3 linked regions of the Homo sapiens genome follow. The protein of the gene in region 3 purifies or fractionates together with the protein of the main gene of each other region. This does not show direct contact. Each region holds a gene or a part of one and is shown on either strand. Other genes may lie near its edges.

What was found. The genes of interacting proteins can lie anywhere in the genome.
Region 1: the proteins of MYORG (region 3) and DNAJA4 purify together in Homo sapiens (affinity purification with mass spectrometry; 2 studies listed by BioGRID and IntAct, with this or other methods). This does not show direct contact.
Region 2: the proteins of MYORG (region 3) and ENTPD7 purify together in Homo sapiens (affinity purification with mass spectrometry; 2 studies listed by BioGRID and IntAct, with this or other methods). This does not show direct contact.

What each region holds. Positions count from the first base shown.
Region 1 is NC_000015.10:78,260,730-78,267,561, reverse strand, and holds the start of DNAJA4 (dnaJ homolog subfamily A member 4), read right to left. Parts: upstream 3,001-6,832; 5' UTR 2,806-3,000; coding exon of another isoform or gene 2,799-2,805; coding exon 2,667-2,798; intron 2,082-2,666; coding exon of another isoform or gene 2,028-2,081; exon of another isoform or gene 1,925-2,027; intron 1,345-1,924; exon of another isoform or gene 1,320-1,344; coding exon of another isoform or gene 1,269-1,319; exon of another isoform or gene 1-1,268.
Region 2 is NC_000010.11:99,697,483-99,704,508, reverse strand, and holds part of ENTPD7 (ectonucleoside triphosphate diphosphohydrolase 7), read right to left. Parts: intron 5,976-7,026; coding exon 5,651-5,975; intron 3,537-5,650; coding exon 3,451-3,536; intron 1,998-3,450; coding exon 1,836-1,997; intron 58-1,835; coding exon 1-57. UniProt on the Homo sapiens protein: Catalyzes the hydrolysis of nucleoside triphosphates and diphosphates in a calcium- or magnesium-dependent manner. Preferentially hydrolyzes nucleoside 5'-triphosphates, with substrate preference for UTP > GTP > CTP.
Region 3 is NC_000009.12:34,373,890-34,380,951, reverse strand, and holds the start of MYORG (myogenesis-regulating glycosidase), read left to right. Parts: upstream 1-4,053; 5' UTR 4,054-4,159; exon of another isoform or gene 4,160-4,895; intron 4,896-7,062. Other genes in the region: SPMIP6 (sperm microtubule inner protein 6), read left to right, coding at 1-55, 1,220-1,306, 1,771-1,876.

The sequences.
Region 1 (6,832 bases), on a different chromosome or scaffold from region 3:
TATACCCCACATCATTGCCCCTAAAAGGGACTATCTTGGTGACCCACTACCTACCACCCATGCATCTTGCAAAAAAAACAAAAAACAAAAAAAAAACACCCGCAGAGAAGTACAGACTCCATACAGAGTGCCCAAAAAACACAAGGTGCCCCAATGCTTAGCAACAGGGGACAACAGGGCAAAAAACAAAGACCAACATTTCAACGGCCTTCTCAGTTTTCCCAGCAAGGGGTAAAGAACTGGTGTAGTCTATTTTTGAAGAGACGTTAATAATACAGTGACGAACTTAGGAGGAAAAAAAAATTTAAAGGTTCTACCTGTGATAAAGTGGAAAAGAACTACACACACATACACACTCACATACACACTCACACACACACTCACACACTCACACACTCACATACACACTCACACACACACTCACATACACACTCACAAAAGGCCTGCACAGTGCACCCAGCACACAGTGGGGACCAGAAGAGGAGGTATTTGTTGAATGAATGAATGAATGAATGAATGAGCTCTCTCTGGGGAACTCTACAGCCGTTTCTATAAATTGTGTCCCCAGTCTCCTCATCCTCTTTGATTTCCGATCTAAATTGCCACTCTCCTCCCAATATCCCTTTCACTGCAATTTCCCTTCCAATTTGTGCCTTTATAGGGCCCTCTCCTCCTACACACAATTTTTTAAAGTGCATTTACTCAGCCAGCTAACAAACATTTTAGCACCTACCCTGCACAGCTAGATACTCACCCCATAAGTGGCCATGGGGGCACAGTCACTGCCCTGCTTACATTATGGCAGGTAATACAGTTATCAAACAAGTAATCACCATTAAAGGAATACAGTTAATCAAACAAGTAATCACCATTAAAGTAGGATGCACGTTGGGCCTGTGGTTCAGTCTATGAGGCAGAGGCAGCCTCCTGGAAGATGTTTTAGCTGAGAACTAAAGAGTTTTATCCCCTTCCATGAAGGTAGAGGAAGGAAAGTATTCCTGGCAATGGGCACATCACAGAACCCTTCCCTCCAAGCTGATGGGCCTGCCAGACCTCACTGCCAAGGGCCTCATTTATGTGACACTAACTCAGTGCCTGGCTATGAATAAATATTAGTTTAAAACAAACCAAACAACCTGCCCAGACAGGTATAGACAGGGTGAAACCTACACATATGTAGTACAGGTCAAGTCTAATTTTTTAAAAATAAAAGCTTCAGAACAAAAGCATATTCAGCTCTAACTGTATACACAGAGGCATGAACTTACTCTTGTGAGTGCTGAGATTTGACCTGAATCCAGGGTCAGGCTTTCCCACATGTCTTTAGCCAGCTTGCTGAAATGTGAAATTAGAAGCCTACAAGCTCTCCTTAAAGGAGACTGTCAGAAGCGGACCACAATGAATGTAGGGAGCAGGTGGATGAATCACCAGCACCATGTAAAACGCCAGTGCCTTTAAAAGCTACAGTAAGCCATCTAAATATAGATGAGAAAGAACGCAAGTGAGTAACAGACAAATGGTCTTACAGGAAAGCATTTTAAACTTGTGACAGCCACATTCAGCACATGTGGCTAAATATAAATATTCCATCACTGTTGCCATTCAGCCAACCGTCCTGAAGTAGCTTTCTCCAGCTTGGAACAACTAACACAGACAGGTATTTTGATTCCAGCGTCGTTTCCACAGGTCTTAAATGCTACATGGGTGATTGGTGTGGTTTCAAACGTGGCCCAAGTGACACTGCTATCAGCTACTATAACGGCCCCACCTCTCAAGACCCATGCGGAACAACCAAAGTTTTGTAAGAAAATGGCAAGAAGTGAAAGGAGGAACGGGAGGGTTAGCAGCCTTTCCTTGCAATGCCTCATCCTTCAATTCACCTATTCAGGTGGGTCATGAGCCTCTTTAGAGATAAAAAGCAAACTTTCTGTAAACAGGATGGAAAAGCTTTTAACTTCTGTCTCTAAAATGCAGAGCATTTTCAGTCTATGATTGGTACTTATGATCAACTGTGTGTCACTTGTCACCGAAAACCCAGAATATGAGTACAAGCTGATGTCAGGTTGCAGATGTCCGTGTCCCTGTTTAATAAAGAAAATGGGATTATTCACTATCTGACGCTTTTATCAGGTAGGCAGTAGGTGCACAGAACAAATCCAGCTAGTCATTCTCAAGAGAGGCACGGCGTTTGTCCAAGGTACCAGCTCAGATTAAAGACACTCATCCCTAGGGTTTATGCATCAACAGAGAATATGAGCCAGTCGTTCCCAGCAAGTAAACAACTGTTTGTGTGTGCCTCAGTTTCCCGATTCCCAGGCCGCCTCTCCCACAGGGAACCAACACACCCTATGAGAACTAGTCCGGCGCGCACGGCAGGGGCTACCCAAACACTTGTGGAGCGAATGGAGGAATGAATGGGCTCGGCAGGGACTCGCGAGGGACCCAAGTGCCGCACCACATGCCTCCTCCGCGGGCGAAGCGCCCTCCACCGACCGCGCCGCACGGCGCCCAGGGTCTCCCGCCACCTCTGCCCGGCCTGGCCCCGAGGCGCCTGGCGACAGCCTCCCCAACAAACGCGGCTCAGGTTTCCCGTCGCCTTCAATGCTCCTGGCTTAATAACCCTTGGCCCCTCGGGAGCCCGGCCCGTGCCCCGCGCCGCCCCGCACCTTCTCGCCCTCATCCGGGTTCTTGTCCGGGTGGTACTTGAGCGCCAGCTTCCGATAGGCCTTCTTGATCTCCTCCGGGGACGCGCTGGGCTTCACGCCCAGGATGTCATAGTACTGGGTCTCCTTCACCATCTTGTGTCTGCGGGGGGGGCGGGCGAGGCCGGTCAGAGCGCCCCGGACGCCCCTGCCGGCACCCTGGCCCGCGCCCCTGGCCCGCGCCCCCGCCGCCCGCTCGCGCGTCACGGTCACGGTCGCCGCCGCCGCCGCCGCTTGTAGCTCCCGCCCGCCCCCCGCCCCGCGCCGGACCGACTTCCACGCCTGGCTCCACCGCACTAGAGCCACCGGCTCCTCCGCGGCGGGTTTTATTCGGCGCCGGCGGAAGCTTCCGCAAGGAGACGGTGACGCCACAAAGGCCTAGAACCTTCGCGGAGGTTCCGGCGGCCCCGCGGCGGGTTCGCGGCCCAGACCCCCGACGCCCGTCCGGCGCGGCCCAGCCGCTCACCTGGGCTTCTCGGGCGTCTGCTCCTTTGGCTGCCCGTCTGATTCCCCGGAGCTCCAGCTCTGACTGCCGCCCCGGGCCATGGCGGGGGCCGGAGAAGGCGGCTTGGGCCTGGAGGGCGCCCTCCGACAACTGTCCCGCCGCCCCGAGGCCGCCCCCTTGCCCTTCCGTGGGTCCGTGGAGCCGGCTGGCTGGAGAGTAGGCGGCCTGGAGGGCTGTGTTGGCCGGAGCCCTGCGCCGAAGGGTGGGACTGGGAGAGCTGCGCCCTGCGGTCCCCACCCGGCCTCTCCCCGGGGGTGTGGCCGCCGTCTGTTCGGTCACAGCCAGGCTGCGGCCTAAGGTGTGCCTGGGATTGTTGCATTTTTTAGGGGGTTGGAGTGGGTAGGGGCCCTCTGCTGCCTCATGACTGCAAGGCTGAGGTGAACCTCTGGCCTTCCAGTTGAGGTACAGGGGTCCTTTGCTGGCCCCAGATGTGGACAGTATCCTCTCGAATGCCCACCACTGGGAACCCTTAAGTCCCTCAAGGTGAGCAGTGACGTCCCCCACATATGGGCAGTGACGCCCCCCAAGTCTGCCAAGGGCCGACAGTGCCCTCTCTTCTCCCAGAAGTGGGAAACTGCCCCCTCTCCTCTGCACATCATCAGTGAGCAAACATCAGGGCCCGACCAGGCTGTTGGGCCCAGTGTTATGCACAGGGGGTCCCATGGCCTGGACCCTGAAACGGCTAGGTGGCCCAGGATGCTTGCCTTGGAAGGGTACAGGAGTAGGTCCCGACTTCCCTAGGCTGCCCCCAGCTCCCAACGGGTGCTCAGGGAGTCCAGATCACAAACCGTTGCAGAAAAGTGGGCGTGGAAAGCAGGCCCCAACGCTATCACAGAATTGCAGGCCCCTGTCCCCTAGCCCTCCCTTGGCTTCTGCCAGGGGAACAGTTTGTCAGAAAGGGGGGTCACTGCTCACCTCCCTGGGATGCCCTGGCCTTGTTTTGGGTACTGTGGCTGAAGCAGGTACTACCTCTCCTCCATGTGTTCCATGGGGGTGAGAAGTGACTTGTACTGTACAAGAGAAATTAAGCTGCTCTTCTTGGAGATGTTGCTTTTTTTTTTTTTAAATTATGCCTTGTAGAGCAGAACCTTTAGGCAGAGAACTCAGAGCTAGAGGTCAGAAACTTTGTTTTCTATCCAGATCTTACTGTCTGAGCCTTAGCATCTCAACACTTTTCTTCGTCAGCAGGACATGGGGATTGCCACTTGCCTGCCTTTCTCACAGGGCTCTTATAAGCATCAAATGGGATGATAACTGTGAAGACTCCTAGCGCAGTGGGTCTCAAACCTGGCTCCTGACAGAGATCACCTGGAATCTTCTAAAAATCCCTCTGGGTTGCACTCCACACCTGTTACCTTAGAGCTTCTAGGGGTGAGGCCCAGGCATCAGTGTTTTTCAAGCTCCCCAGGTGGTACAGCCAGAGCCGAGATCCACTGCCCAGGGTCACATACTTGTCCAGATTTAGTACTCGGGACCATAGGCATTCGTAAAATGGGCATGTGCAGGAGAGGGATGGCTTAAAGACAGAGCCTAGAAACATAGAATGGAGCTATGCACTTTGGACGACAGTGAATTCTGGAACCAGTGAGACTTAGACCTAGGTTCAAATCCCAGCACTGCTACTTCTGGCTGTGGAACCTTGGGCAGACAACTTAACCTTTCTGAGCCTCAGTTTTCTTAACCTTTTAATGAGGATATTAATTATAACTACTTCATAACTTTGTGAAACACCTGGTATATAGTCACAATATTGATGCTTTTTGGGGGTGGGGGGGTGCGGGCAGGGGCTAAGGTATAGAAGCTGATAGTGATTCTCTTCTTGATGGAACTTAGCCAGGCTCCTATGAGCCCTCTTCTCAACTAGGCTTCAGTCTTGGCCTATAAAGACTGAACAGACAGCAACACAGTTTCTAATAATTCAACGTCACATCCTTAAGATCACCAGTTCCCAGGCTTTTTGGCACCAGAGACCAGTTTCATGGAAGACGATTTTGTCACGGACAGGGTGGTGGGGGTGGGCAATAATTCTATGATGAAGGCCTGGCGTGGTGGCTCACACCTGTAATCCCAGCACTTTGGGACGCCGAGGTGGGCAGATCACTTGAGGCCACGAGTTCAAGACCAGTCTGGCCAACTTGGTGAAACTCCATCTCTACTAAAAATACAAAAATTAGCCAGGGATGGTGGTGCTCGCCTGTAATCCCAGCTACTCAGGAGGCTGAGGCACAAGAATCGCTTGAACCCGGGAGGCAGAGGCTGCAGTGAGCTGAGATCACACCACTGCACTCCAGCCTGGGTGACAGAGCAAGACTCTGTCTCAAAAAATAAAAAATAAATAACAATAGGATTGTCTAGTAAAATCAGATATTTTTGGCCAGGTGTGGTGGCTCAGGCCTGTAATCCCAGCACTTTGGGAGGTCGAAGTGGGCAGATCACTTGAGCTCAAGAGTTTGAGACCAGCCTGGCCAACATGGTGAAACCCCGTCTCTACTAAAAATACAAAAATTAGCCAGGTGTGGTGGCACGTGCCTGTAATCCCAGCTACTCAGGAGGCTGAAATAGGAGAATCACTTAAACCCGGGAGGCAGAGGTTGCAGTGAGCTGAGACTGTGCTACTGCATGCCAGCCTGGGCAACAGAGAAAGACTCTATCTCAAAAAAGAAAAAAAAATGGAGGATGAAACTGTTCCACCTTAGATCATCAGGCGTTAGATTCTTATAAGGAGCATGCAACCTAGATCCCCCGCATGCACAGTTCACAGCAGATTTCAAGCTCCTGTGAGAATCTAATGCCACTGCTTGGTTCCTGACAGGCCACAGACCAGTACTGGTCCGCAGCCTAGGAGTTGGGGGCCCCTACCTAAGGTGACCCTGGCCCCACTACCCCCTCTTAAAGTGCCTGCCTGAGAAAACTCAAGGCTGCCAAAATATTTACTGTGTTTTTGTTTCATCCAACACCTGAGGATAGAGCTTCTGTCTCCCAGTCTCTTTGGGAGAACGGCATCCTAACTTTGGCAATTGGCAGCTAGCAGACACAGCTGGCCTAATGTCACTTACACTGACCAACCCTTTGTCATTTTTCACTTCCCTGATTCTGTTAAACTGCTGCTTGTCCTTCTCCCTATTCCCTCATGTTCTTTTCAAAATGCCCAATTACTTTTCGTACAAATCGATATTGAGCTCAGTTCATACTAGATTGTTTTCCCTATTGCAATAGTTATGACTGATTAAATTCTGTCCTTACAATTTTAACTACTGTTCAGCTTTGTTTATCTTAGACAAAGCCTCTGACAATCTAGTAGATTATTTCCCAGAATTATGCTTGGGAGGATTGGAGGCATTACACAGACATTTCTTATTTTGTCAGTTATGTGTTTATTTTCATGATGACCTTTTCATTACTGCAACTTTTATTAAAAGTGACACTGACTTTCCACTCACAGTAAGCAATGTATGGTTTCCTTTTTATATTCTTTTAAAAAAGAGTAGATAAATAGTAAGTGTATGATAGTACCTGTAGTACAAGAATAAAGCAACAGTGGTGATACTTGAATGACAGAAATTTGGGAAATGCTGATCCAGTTCTACCATCTCATTCTACAGTTGGGGAGACTTTTAGACAAAGA
Region 2 (7,026 bases), on a different chromosome or scaffold from region 3:
AAGGAGAGACGGAACCAGCTACCATGGGCTTGTCGGACACCTTCCTGCCGAAGATCCCTAGGGAAGAATTAAGAATTTGTAGGTGGAAAAAACTGTTAAGTTTCAAAGGGAGACATTTACTGATTTGAAAGGCCCAGTAGTGTTATCACATTTATTCCATCCACATAAACATTTTATGACACCAGCTCCACAGAGCAGGCAAAGCTGAAGAACATCCCCCGCCCCAGGAGCCCTTCTGTGTCTTCCTTCCCACGGCCCCCAGAAGGGACCTCCAGGCTTACACCCTCCAGAATCTAAGCCAAGATGGGAAGGCCTTTGAAATTGAATCCCAAAAAATGAACAGAAAGGCTAGATTGATCACCTGTAACATAAGTCTTAAAATATGGCTTATAAATACAGTACTAATGAGAATAGGGTATCCCCTGAATCCAATAAAGAAATCAGAGTGTGTGTGTCTAAATCCTTTTTTTAAAGTTGCTATGCAGCCAAGTGCAGTGGCACATGCTTGTAATCAAAGCACTTTGGGAGGCCAGGCCAGGAGAATTGCTTGAAGCCAGGAGTTCAAAACCAGCCTGGTCAACATAACAAGACCCCATCTCTGCAAAAGAAAAATCAAAAAATTAGCTGGGCATGGTGGCGAGCACCTGTATTCCCAGCTACTCAGAAGGCTGAGGCAGGAGAATCACTTGAGCCCAGGAGTTCAAGGTTGCAGTGAGCTATGAACACGGCACTGCCACCACACTCAGCCTGGGCAACAGAGCAAGACCCTGTCTCAAAAAAATAATAAAAAATAAAGGTACTATGTTTCCTTAGGATCTAGGATATATCTAAATAAAGCTGTTACCTGATCAACTGTATTACAGTCAGATAAAAATAAGGCGATATGAAAACCAAGTGTAATGGTCCACCTGGCTAGAACAGAAGCCACTCTTCAGCAGTCCAGATCCAGATCTAGTTTTGTCTGGTTTGACCTGCAGTGTTCTTCTAGAATGCGAATCTCTAAACTGAAAGACTTCATAAAAAATATGGATTTCTGACTTTTCTGGACAGATGAGAACTGGCAAATGCTGGGACAGTGCTTGTGTGTGACAGTAACCAGCCCATTAACTGGGATACATGCTCCAGTTGTGGGCAACCCCCACCTAGCCCACTTCCCTCACTTCTGTCGCCTGCCTGGCTGCTGACGGTATTGAGTTTAGAGGAACAGACATCAAAGATACAAAATTCATCTGAGTTTATCTGAAATAGTCCAGGGTACAGGTACCTAAAAATTGTCCCAAATATCTGACAGTACATAAAAGTAAGGTATCAGGCTACCAGAGTTTGATGAAAGTAGCCCCACTAAAAACATCTCACGTCCTTTATTCTAATTCTGACCCACCAAAAAGCCTTCTAAGTCAATGACACAATGTCTGGAGTGCCTCTGTATGTTATGAAAGATTGCTCTAGACATCCTACCCCTGTTCTTTAGTCAGATGTGTTTTCCAGGGTAACCCAAGAATGACATTTTAGCTTGTCAGTATCTTGGAAGTGATTAGTAAGAGCTCAGTCCTAAAGACTGGTTTGTTGTGAGTAAACAAATAAAGCTGGATTTCTGAAACAGCAAAGCTGAGACTCCAGACCAGTAATGCTCAACCTTCTTTCTGTTCGAGCATGCCTGGTAGTAACAGTGGCTCACATGGAAGTAAAGGAGTTTGTTTTTGTGAGGGGGTAGAGAGGAAGGTCACTTAAGACCTATTCTAAGCTGGTTAAAAAAAAAAAGAAAGAAACCGATTCTGAGGCATCAACTGATATCCTCTGAGCTCAAGATACCAGATTGGTCAGTCTTACTTTACCTGAGTGGTAAGAATCGTGTTTTATATAGAATGGCTCCCAGCGTCCACTGAACCTCTCGGTCATACACCAGCTGGGCTGTCCGCAGGTTTGGGTAGTCATAGGGAAAGTGGAATCCTTCATGTAAGACTTGGTACATCCAAGCCGATTTAAAACACTGATATCTGTGTGACAAAAATAATTAAATTTTAAAAAAAGAGAAAAGAATTCTAATACTTTCCTTTGCAATAAGCCACTCCGTATTCCCACAAGTTATTAAAAGACCTACCTCCTCCCGCTTCACCTTCCTCACCTCTAAGTGGGTTATTTCTAAGTCAGCCTACTTATCTTGTGTTTACCACAAAGGCAATAATGATACTGTGGCTGTGTTTTTCTTTTTCTTTTTTTTAAGAGTCCCTATCTTCAGAGAGCATATTAAAATATCTACAAATGTAATTATAGGATGTTTGGGATTAGCTTCAAAACAACCCAGTTGAAGTAAGAGGGGGATTGTGGATGGGAAAACAGATAAAAACAAGATGGGCCAGGAGCTGATAAATGTTAGTAGGAAAGCAGGGTGACAGGTACACAGGAGTTGATTACACTATTCTAGTTTTGTTTATGTTAAAACAATTTTTGTTTTTTTTTGAGACAGAGTCTCACTCTGTCACCCACGCTGGAGTGCAGTGGCGCGATCTCAGCTCACTACAACCTCCACCTCCTGGGTTCAAGCAATTCTCCCTGCCTCAGCCTCCCGAGTAGCTGGGATTACAGGCACCTGCCACCAAACCCTGCTAATTTTTGTATTTTTAGTGGAGACAGGGTTTCGCCATGTTAGCCAGGCTGGTCTTGAACTCCTGAACTCAGGTGATCCACCCACCTCAGCCTCCCAAAGCACTAGGATTACAGGTGTGAGCCACCATGCCCGGCAATTTTAAACAATTTTTAACTAAAACATTTAAAAATGAAAGGACCAATGAACCATACTGGCAAAATGTTATTTGTTGAAGCTGTGTGATAGTTACATGAGGGTTTATGTTGCTATTCTCTCTACTTTTCTATATGTTTGATATTATCTATAATACAAAGTTAAAAAAAAAATCACTTTTGGCCGGGCCCGGTGGCTCATACCTGTAATCCTAGCACTCTGGGAGGGCGAGGCAGGCGGATCACTTGAGCTCAGGAGTTCAAGACCAGCCTGGCAACATTGCGAAACCCCGTCTCTACAAAAAAATACAAAAATTGGCCAGGCATGGTGGCACGTGCCTATAGTCCCAGCTACTTGGGGGGCTGAGGCAGGAGAATCGCTGGAACCCAGGAGGCGGAGGTTGCAGTGAGCTAAGATCATGCCACTGCACTCCAGCCTGGGCAACAAAGTGAGACTCTGTCTCAAAAAAAAAAAAAAATCACTTTTGTTGTCAAATCACTTGTTGAGAACTCTGTTTGGTAACCACTGATTTCTTCTGGCTTTGCTATAATAGGCTCACTATTTTGGCCCCTATCCCTGAGAAAATCAAGTCTGGAATAATCAAATGCTCCCTCAACATGAAATCTAATCTGCATTATTGCTCACTCTCCATTATAATCTGCCATCTAGATTTTAAGTCCACATCTAAGGAGGAAAGGGAAGTAACTTACTTGAGTCGATGCTCATCTGCATGTGATGAAAAGAGGCCATTCTTGAATCTCTGAGTTAGTACCGACCAAGCCATGCCACAGTAATCCTGGATCAACCACAGAGAAATAGTGCAACATGAATTTGGAGGCAAACTCTCTACCTTCCCCACAGTCACAGCTGTTCCATTTCTAAAGTTACTTGTGGGCTACCAGCTGACAAAGGAAAACAGAAATGGTGTGTTCATTCACTAAACACTGCGTCATACCCCTGTTTATTCCCGTCATCCCATGTCTAGCACCAAGCCAGCTTGATGTGGCTTCTGAGCCTCTTAGGCTTCAGAGGGGCTGAGGTTAGGACTAACAAATAGCAACGTCAAAAGACAAAGATAGTTTCATTCTACTCCACATAGGACTGACATGAGCAGGGAGAGCAGATGGAAGAGGATGGTTAGAAACCTGTCATTGGCCTCCCTCGGTGTTGTAATTCTCACCAAAATAATCATTCCTTTTGGTTTGTATGTCTGCTATGTGCCAGGTGCTGTTCTAGATGCCAGGGAATCATGCAGTAAATAAAACAGACAAAAATTCCTGTCCTCAGGAAGCTTACATTCTAGTGGTAGGAGACAGACAATAAACACACACACACACACACACACACACACACATACACACACACACACACACACGGTACGTTGGATAACATAAATGCTCAGGGAAAAATAAAGCAGGAAAGGGCAACAGGTAATATGGGGAGCGTTGTCATTTTGGATAGAGTGGTCCCAGAAGGTGGCTCTGGGAAGATAACGTTTGAGTCAAAGTTAAAAAGGTAAGGGAAAAAAATCGCTTTTACCTGGAAAAGATAATATGTTAAGCCCAATAACTTGAGCCTTTTGGTGTTCAAGGGAATAGAATTTGAAGAAGTTTTGAGATAAGAGAAAGAGTCAGGCCATGGATAGTTAGGGAGCTCTGGGCTCCAGAAAAACAGGGAGCGTGAAGGTCGTCCTGGAGGCTGGAGAGAAAGGAGCAAATACAAACCAGGTGTCCCACAGTATTTCTTAAGGACTGTCTTTTGGGAACAGAACAGTACAGATACTGCAGATATTATTTTGCTGGAAGCCTTACACTAAGAGAACCCTAGAGAATTGTAAGAAAGAAAGAGAAAGGTAGGCAGGGAAGAAGGAGGGAAGGGAGGGAGGGAGGGAAATATGAGGAGAGGCTGGGTACGGTGACTCACGCCTGTAATCTCAGCACTTTGGGGGGCCAAGGCGGGCAGATCACCTGAGGCCAGGAGTTCCAAACCAGCCTGGCCAACATGGCAAAACCCCATCTCTATTAAAAATAATAAAAATTAGCCAGGCATGGTGGTGGGCATCTGTAATCCCAGCTACTCGGGAGGCTGAGGCAGGAGAATCACTTGAACCCGGAAGGCAGAGGTTGCAGTGAGCTGAGATCATGCCAATGCACTCCAGCCTGGGCTACAGAGCGAGACCCCATCTCAAGAAAAAAAGAAATATGAGGACAGATTCTCCCATTCGTTTCTCTGATGAAAAAGATAGAGACACGCAACAATTCAAAGAGATGGCCCTAAATAAAGCAGAAAATGATAGAAAGCTGGCTAAACTTTCATCTGTCCAGGTACCAATGATTTAAACTTATATGATGCTTAAGTCCTATATATGCTCAGAGTGAATTTTTACTCCTCTATTTTAAATCTAAACAAACTTCCACCATCATTGCTTTTTACAACATCTAATATTCCCAGGGACCCCATACCACTCTGCCTCTTAATACCTCAACCCAAAAGAAAGATGGGCTTGCCCCTCTGGGTGATATCATCTCCAAAAGCACATTACAACAGAAAATAGCTAGCAAGAGGAAAAATACTGGAGGTGACATTTCTTGGGCATAAACATTAAACAAGACTATTGGAAAGTTGGAAGAAAAACCATTAGCCAACACAAAAATTTTATGCCTGGGTAATAATTTGGGTGGTATGACATCCATGGAAAATAAATTTAGTTAATTAGAAGGCAGTACAGCATAGCTAGATCCTTAAGTTCTCTGTCCACTTCCTCATCTGTAAAATGAGTGTTCAAAGGGCTCCTGCAAAGAACAAGTGAGATTCTGTATGCAAAGCCCTTTGCACAGCACCTGGCACAGAGTGAGGCATTCAATAAATGGCTGCTGCCAGCATAAGCCATGTTTATCATTAATAATTTACCTGAGCAGCCTTGGCAAATGTTGGCCCATGGTAGCGGCCACCAATGCGCAACACATCCTCTGTACAATAAAAAAACTCAGAGAAGCCGTAGAACTCGCTGTTGTTGAAGTCAATAGGCGATTGATATATGCCATTGAGTGAGGCCTGGCTGGTGTTGGAGCGAGCCAGCAGGGGGCTCAGCATTGCCCCACAAGACACCCAGTCTCCTCTTCCTCGGACATGTAAGACTTGGCTGTTCCTCTCCACCACATCTGTGAGTCCCACTGGCAGGCAGGGATCCAGAAATGGATTGTCGGGACTCAGACCTGTCTTCTGACCAAGCAATCTGCCACAATGACAAAAACAAACAAACAAACAAACACGTCATGCCTGTATTCAACCTAGTCTAAGAAACACAATGTGCATCAGAAATATCTTACTACTGGTTTTCATGATATCTCTAGAAACGAGGATGGAGTGCAATTTCATCACATAAACATTTAACTTCAGCAAGTTAAATTTAGAAAAAAAAGAGAGGAATATGGTGATCAATTCTGTTCGACATTTTAGTCAACATGTGTATTTCCTAGTCTGTAGTGAAATTGGAGATGTGAATCTGCTGTTCTCCATCTGGTCTTCATTCCCACGTACCTCCTAAAAGTGCAAGGACCTTATCGTGCGGAGTGTGGTTCTAATGTTTAAAAATACAACTGGTAGGGGGTGAGGTGGGAAGGACTGTGGGGAGAGATTCCTGAAGAGCAGACCACGGCAGTGGCCCATGTGCAATGGCTGGCAATGGTGATGGAGCCCATGCCTGCCTCTGAATGAGCAGTGCTGGAACAGAACAGGCACAGCACCAGCTCCAGGAAGCCACCTGCAGAGCCTGGAGCCTCTGAGTGGGGAGAAGACTGGAAAGCTTTGATTCCCACCATGGCCGTAACACAGGTCCAGTTATTTTGAGTTTATACTTGCCTAGCAACCATATTCTCATTCCTCAAAATGATGAGTATGAAGATCTGTCCAAGGACAGAAATTAAGTTGGGGTCCAAGTAACTTTGCCAATTGCAGTTAATTATTCATCAGTTCCTAAACAGACAGATGTTGAAGAGTGGACTTCTTAGAATGAGGATGCGCCCACAGGTGTAAAGACCGAGGGTGAGAATGGAATGAGGCAGTACAACAGAACACTTTACAACAACTGGAACCGACTATTTTAAGGATGTGACACCAACTGTAAGGAAAACTCAGAAAATTGTTATTGAGAAGAGACAATGATCATTTTGCCATCTCAGGAAATAGGTTAATAGACTGGCAGCTACACAAGATATGCCTTTTACTCATCAGTCACCTGATGTAGGTGACTTAGCTACTTGGCAAGAAAATACCAACGCATGGGA
Region 3 (7,062 bases):
CGCCCTGCACCGACCGCCGCCTGCGGCCTTGGTGCCGGGAGCAACCGACTGTAAGGTTCGCAGGGCTCCGCCCGCCTCAGCCGGGCTCCACCCCACACAAGCCCCGCCCCAGAACCCCGCCCCCTTCCAGCCCGGCCAGCTTCCGTGCAGGCCCCCAGCCTGCTCTAGCCCCGCGCTGCACGCTCTCGAGGCCCTGCCGTGTCCCGCCCTCGGGCTCCAAGGCCTGAACTAACAACTGAGGCGGGAGAACCAGCACGAAGGTTACTCCAAGTCCCCGACCCCTGTCCCTCTCAAACTGGGCTCAAGGTCAACCTGGCCTCTCTATATGCTCTGGAGGTCCCGTCAGAGGGTTTTTGAGGAAGAAACCCCGCACATCAGTCGCATCCTCTTCCCCCATCTCCTTGGCCCTGCCCCCTTTCCTGGACTCCTGGCCCTAGAGACGCAGGTTCTAGCCTGTGGAGTGCCCTGCGTTCTCAGAAAAATGTCCTCTCTTGCTGGTCCCCCGTCACCGTCGGTAGTGGGTGCGGTCATTCCTGGGGGCTACGTGAGCCGGGAAATGGTGACCACTTTACCAGAATGGCTCTGGCCTCCTCGGATCCCGCACCACCTGCGGAGGTAGGCACCCTCGCGTGTTACTGCTAAGAAAACTGAGGCCCGAGCGCACAGCTGGAGCCCAGACTGCAGCTCGGCATTCGTCCTGCACGCGGCGGCAGCCAAGCCTGGGAGAACTTTGTCCGCGGTAGCCCAGAGAGCTGTGCAGTGGGGGTCCATAGTGATCCCCCGCCCCTCTCCAGGCCGAGAGAGCCTGATTCATTGTGCAAGACTGAGTCTTATCCCTCTCAAGGGCATAGGGGAGTGGGAAAGTGTCTGAGCCTCTAGGAAGCTCAGAAATGATGCCTCGTCCTACTGCTGGAGAAATTGCTGTCCAGTGGCGGGGATCCGGTGGTTCCAGGTCCTCAACGCCCGGAGCCCGACCTTCCCCAGGGTCCAGCGCTCTTTCCTCAACGGCAGAAATGAGGCCTTGCCGGGAGGGAGTCTTCCAAGGGGGGTTCCCGAATCGGTGCTGCAGTGGGGGTTTTGAAGGGTGAGGAAGAAGGAGAGGAGGATTTCCGAGCCTTGGGACGGACACCTGAAGCGCCGCCCAGGGGCTTGGTCTAAATCGGGGGATGAGAGTCAAAAGGCCCAACCCCTCCATGCTCGCGGCTTCCTCCTTCTCCAGATGTGTACCTCCCTACGAGCACCGGCCCGGAATGCAGTGTGCTGTTACAACTCCCCCGCCGTCATACTACCCATATCCGAACCTTAGGTAAGTCTAACGCGCACACACTCATTTGCACACGCACCCTGAAGGCTTGGTGAGGCGGGGCTGGGGGAGGATGTCTGGTAGACGGGATGAGAACGCTCCGCGGTGCACTGACAGGCACATACCACGAGGGGGAGCTAGTGGCATGGAGCAGTCAAAGGTGGTAAGGACAGAGGACCTTAAGAGAGGGCTAGGAGGCCGGTATTGAAGGGTTACAGGTTGGCAGTGGGCTTACAGCCAAAGGCGTTGGTTCAGAGCTTGAAGTAATGAGTAAGAAGTCGATGTTAAGGAGGAAATATTGGGTATCAGCAACTTAACAGTAGAACCTAAGGTCAGGAGGTCAGTATTGGAACCCAAGGTCAGTGCTATAGACAAAGTGTAGGGATAAGGTTAGCATTGCAAACTGGAGTCAGATATTCACTTTGACATATGAGGATCCAAAACGGCTGACCCATCTCTTCCTGTAGATGGGACACAAGTCACTTCAAGAAGTCTGGTGGTCCCCAGAGAAACAACTATGTTATCCATCCTGAGTTTGTGTCTGAGACCTATCCCGACTATCGTTGCTGGTAGAGCCTGGGCTTGCTGTGCCAAGGGGGCAGAGCAATAAATAAACTCTTCAACCCCAAAGCCTGCCTCCTGTGTCCTTACCCAGCAGGATCTGGAAGTGAAGGGCCAGTCACTCAGGCCTCTATCAAACCCCTTCAACTGAGATGCAATTTTTCTCAAAGTCACCCTTCCCTGGGCCCTTCCAACCCCATCATCTCAGTACATCCCTGAGTGCCCTCCTGACACAGAACAGTAGCCTTATATCCAGCTGCTATCCTCCTCCCCTGAATCCCAGAGCCCAAACGGATGGGTCCACCCTGCAATGCAGGCAGGAGCCATCTACTTTCCACCCCACGAAGACCCTCCAGCTAACATTTCTTCAGTATGCTCCCAAACTTAGATGCCCTCCCACTCATCAGAGGACCCAGAATCCTTCCTTCCACAGTCAAAGACCTATCCCTACACCCAAAGCTCTTGATCTCTGCTTCCAGGAGTCCCCATCACAGCCTCCCAAAAGCCTCTCTGTGCTCAGACACCCTTGCTGCACAAGGTGTGTCCCCCATTCCAAGTCCAACTGGTCAAAACATAATTTTGGAGGGTCTCATGACAAAGAAATTTCAAGTTGCAAAACAAAGCCCTGTTTCTCTGCCCCTCAGGGAGCGAGAAGGGGCCATTCTAAAATCTCTGTGATCTTCAGTATTTTTATTTCTGCATCAAATAGATATGAAACCAGCTGGGTGCAGAGGCTCACACCTGTAATCTCACCACTTTGGGAGGCAGAGGCAGGAGGATCACTTGAGCCCAGGAATTCGATACCAGCTGGGGCAACATAAAGAGACCCCTTCTCTACAAAAAAATTTAAAAATTAGCAGGGTATGGTGGCACACACATGTGGTCCAAGTTACTCAGGAGCCTGAGGCGGGAGGGGATAGCTTGAACCAAGGACATTGAGGCTGCAGTGAGCTATGTTAACGCCACTGCACTCCAGCCTGGGCGACAGAGCGAGACCCTCTCTCAAAAAAATAAAGACCGGACGCGGTGGCCCACACTTGTAATCCCAGCACTTTGGGAGGCCGAGGCAGGTAGATCACCTGAGGTCAGGAGTTTGAGACCAGCCTGACCAACATGGTGAAACTCTGTCTCTACTAAAAATACAAAATTAGCCAGGCGCGGTGGTGCGTGCCTGTAATCCCAGCTACTTGGGAGGCTGAGGCAGGAGAATTGCTTGAACCCGGGAGGCGGAGTTTGCAGTGAGCTGAGATCGTGCCATTGTACTCCAGCCTGGGCAACAAGAACGAAACTCAAAAATAAATAAATATAAAAATAAAATAAAATAAAAAAGAAATGAAACCTCAGAGTCTTGCCCAGCCCCCGGGGAGAGGGGCATGGCGGGGCACACCCACTTTCCCGCAGCTTGGGCATTTCTAACTAAAGGCTGTAACTTAGGAGGAGGGGCTGGACCCTATAAATAACTAGTCTGGGGGTAGCGGTCTGGGAGGCGGGTGACGTTGCAAAACACCGAGCAGAAACCGGTCTTCTCAGTCCCTGACCTCGGACACCGCTGGTTTGGTCCGGTGGGAACCGACAGCTTGGACTCGCGGCGGGTTGGAACTACAGCTCCCTCCGTGGGGCCCTCGATTGGAAGCACCTGCATTGGGAGCTGAGATACTCGCGGAATTCCGCCACCACTTTTCCGTATGGAAAGCTGAGGGCTTGTGAGAGCGTTATACCGATATGGCCTCCACCTGTCCAAACCGGGAAGGAAGGAATTCCAATGGCCAGCTCTGCTCCTTTACCCTGCAGCTCTCTCCCTCTCATCCTCATTCCAAACCTAGCCTAGAGGTGCAAGAACCCCAACCTTCCGCAGCTGCTCCTTTCTGCAGAACTACATGTCCCAGCAGGCCTGGGGCCGAGCCCCGCCCGCTTGCGGGTTAGCAGTGGCCCAGGAGGGGCGGGCCCGCCGGCGGGAGTCGGAGCCGCGGGGCGCAGGACTGAGCAAGCCTGAAATGCCAGGGGCAGAGCACAGAGCGGTGGGAGGAAGGTGGGGCTGAGGGGCGGGGCCACAGATCCGCCTGATAACCTGGGAGGAGGGGTCGAACGTCAAGGGCAGGGCTGGACTCTGAGGCCCGAGACGAGACTGGATGACTGGGGCGTGGCCGAGGAACCCCAGGGCGGGACCCGAGGAGGGGCTGTGCCCTGCCAGACAGAGCCCCGCGCGGCGCGGCGGCAGCTTCACTCTGGTTCAAGCGCAGGGGATCGGCGGGAAGCTCTTTCACCCCCGCTTCTGCCGGGCTGTAACTGCAATGGGTGAGCCCAGCGGGAGGGCTGTGGGGGGCGGGGGGCTGCTGAAGGAGCACGATTCCTGAACTTTCGCTCCCACCGATGAATGGGTGGAGCGAGCCTGAACACCTGGGCCCATCCCACGGCCGCGATTCCCGCGGGGCGACAGGTCCCTTGACCTCGGTCGGCCCCTTCGGACAGTATAGCCTTCAGGGCGGGGTAGGGAGGGCGGCTGTGGAGTATTCCAGGCTATGTAGGCAGTCACTCGATCCCCGCGGATACCGTCGCCTGGCAGGAGAGGGAGATGGGCCGGATCGAGTTGCCTTTGACATTTCCATCCCCCCGGGAACTGTGTCCAACTAACGATTCTACTTGGAATGGCCTCCCCTCAGTTGAGTCGGGCGGGGCCCTCCCCCTCAGACCAGACTAGCTGTGGCAGCCAAGGCTGAGGTTGAGTGTCCGGTGGGGAGAGGCTCAGCAGGGGCAGAGCCCAGACTCCACCTGGCGGAGGCGGCAGATTACAGAGGTCTCTGGCACCACTGTTAACACCGGAACCACAGACTTCCTCCCCCAAAGCCCCGGTACCAGATGCCATTAAAATTGCCCTCTTTGCTGCCCTCGTGGTCTTCGTGGTCCGCGTGGAGCAAGCAGCAGCACCAGCCCTTGGAAAGACAGGCCTCACCATGCCATGTCCATCTGATGGAAGCTGGTCCCACCAGCTCAGCCCCAGGGCTCCTTTCTGCTACTGCATTCAGGCAGCCAGGTCAGATCATTATCTCCCATCTCCTAAAACTTACACTGTGGAGAGCTGGGCTGGGATTTTAGATCCAGGCAGCCTTGATACCTGGCTAACTTCAGACAAGTTCCTTTTTCTGTTTGGGCCACGTTTCCTCACCTGTAAAATGGACACTGCAGCTATGTCTGCTGTTCCACATTGTTGATAGAACTGGATGCTGTGGTGACATTTGGGACACTATCATGGTGCCTGGGGTGGGTGGGTGCCCAGGCCTGTGGGCTTCTGTCTTTCATCAAAGAACTTCAGATCCCAGAAAATTAAGATTCTCAAAACATAACTGTCGGAAAGGGCTTTTGAATCCACCTTGGTGGCCTCTTCCTGCCTCCAGGGCTCATGAGATAGGCTGACTTCATATGAAAGTTTTGAGGATGAGGAAGTCTCTCTCCTCTTCAGATACTGACCCTCTCTCTCCTTATTTCCTTGGTGCCCAGAATAGGGCTTTGGTTATCTTGAATGAATGAATATAAACTCACAGGTGTGATCTGAGCCACCTAAAGCCTTCTTTGGGTTCTGCTCAGCTTGAGGGCATCACCTAAAGGCCACTGGCTGCATTTTCCAGGAGGTGTTTTCTAAGCTGTATCTATATAGGAATGGGGAGGAAAGCTAAGTCATTGTAGACTGAGAGAAAGGGAATAAGAGTCTGTTCCAGACCAGCTAGGGCTGACAAGCTTAGGCAGCTGGGGGCAGAGGGCACTGAGAATGAGGCCCTGAGCTAGCACCGTGTGGGAAGTGCCTATGGGAGGAGCTGTGTATTGACATTTAGGATCAAATTCTGCTCCACACCTTGCATTCTTGCATGGGGGAGGTGAAAAACCTGAGTATTTCCGGCATCTCCTTGGAAGTCCCTGGGGACTTAGAGACAGACACTGGCATCTGGGAGGAGGCTAATTACTGTTTGCTAGTCTCCTTCTCTTCTTCCCCCGAGCTGGAGCAGTTGGGCAACCAACTGGCTGGCTGTGTGTATGCCCGTGTGTGCACCTGGGTGGTGCTATTTCTTTGTTGGACTCTGCTCTGAAGCCTGGGACAGGAACGGTCAGTGGCCTTGAGTGGCAGAGTAGGACACACCTCTTCCCCTGAGCCTGTGTTTCCCTGTAGTCATATCTGTATTTTTTTTTTTTTTTTGAGATAGGGTCTCACTTTGTCACCTAGGCTGGAGTGCAGTGGCACAATCTTGGCTCACTGCAGCCTTGACCTCCTGGGCTCAAGCGACCCTCCCACCTCAGCCCCCCAAGTAGCTGGGACTACAGGTGCACACCACCATGCCTGGCTAATTTTTTTTTTTTTTTGTATTTTTGGTAGAGACAGGGTTTCAACATGTTGCCCAGGCTGGTCTCAAACTCCTGAGCTCAAGAGATCTGCCCTCCTTGGCCTCCCAAAGTGCTAGGATTACAGGCATGAGCACCGTGCATGGCCTCATATCTGGATATTTAGCATATAGTGTGTCAGAGTTTATGTGTGTTAGTGGTAGTGGTGGGTGTCTGATCCCTGGAGAGCAGGTAGGTGGAGGAGGTGCGCTGGGCCAAGCTAGGTGGGTGAAATCTCCTGAAGCAGGTGGCCTAAAGGATTTAGGTTGGGGAAGGAACGAGCTTGGTAATCACAAGATAGGCTTGGCTGGAAATGGAATCAGAATGGTAGCTGAGAACACATCATGCCTGGAGCCTCCAGTGCAAAGCAAACACTTTTAAATTTCATCATGGAAGCAATGAGCAGCTCTCGAAGCTAGGGATAGATATGGTTTGATAAGTGCTTTAGAAAGATCACTATGGTTGCCGTGATCAGAAGGCACTGGTGAGAAAGAAGTTAGAGTCAGAGAGGCCTGTTGGGGGAAGCGTTTGGTAATACAGGGGAGAAGTGACAGTGCCCAAACTATGACAGAAACAGGACAGTGGGTGAAACAGAGCGAGGAAGTAGCTGGCCCACAGATGTGGTGCCAGGAGCAAAGCAGGAAGGCAGGCATGGAAATGGATTTGGTGATGGATGATGGCTGAGAGCAGGGTGAGTTTGAGGGCAAAGAGAAGCAGATGTGAGAAACAACTGGCCCCCCATGCCAGGCTCCTGCCCCAGGCCCTAATGTCTGAACCCAACTCTACCTCCCTCCAAACCAGGCCCTGGGACTAAGTCTGGCTTTGGGTGT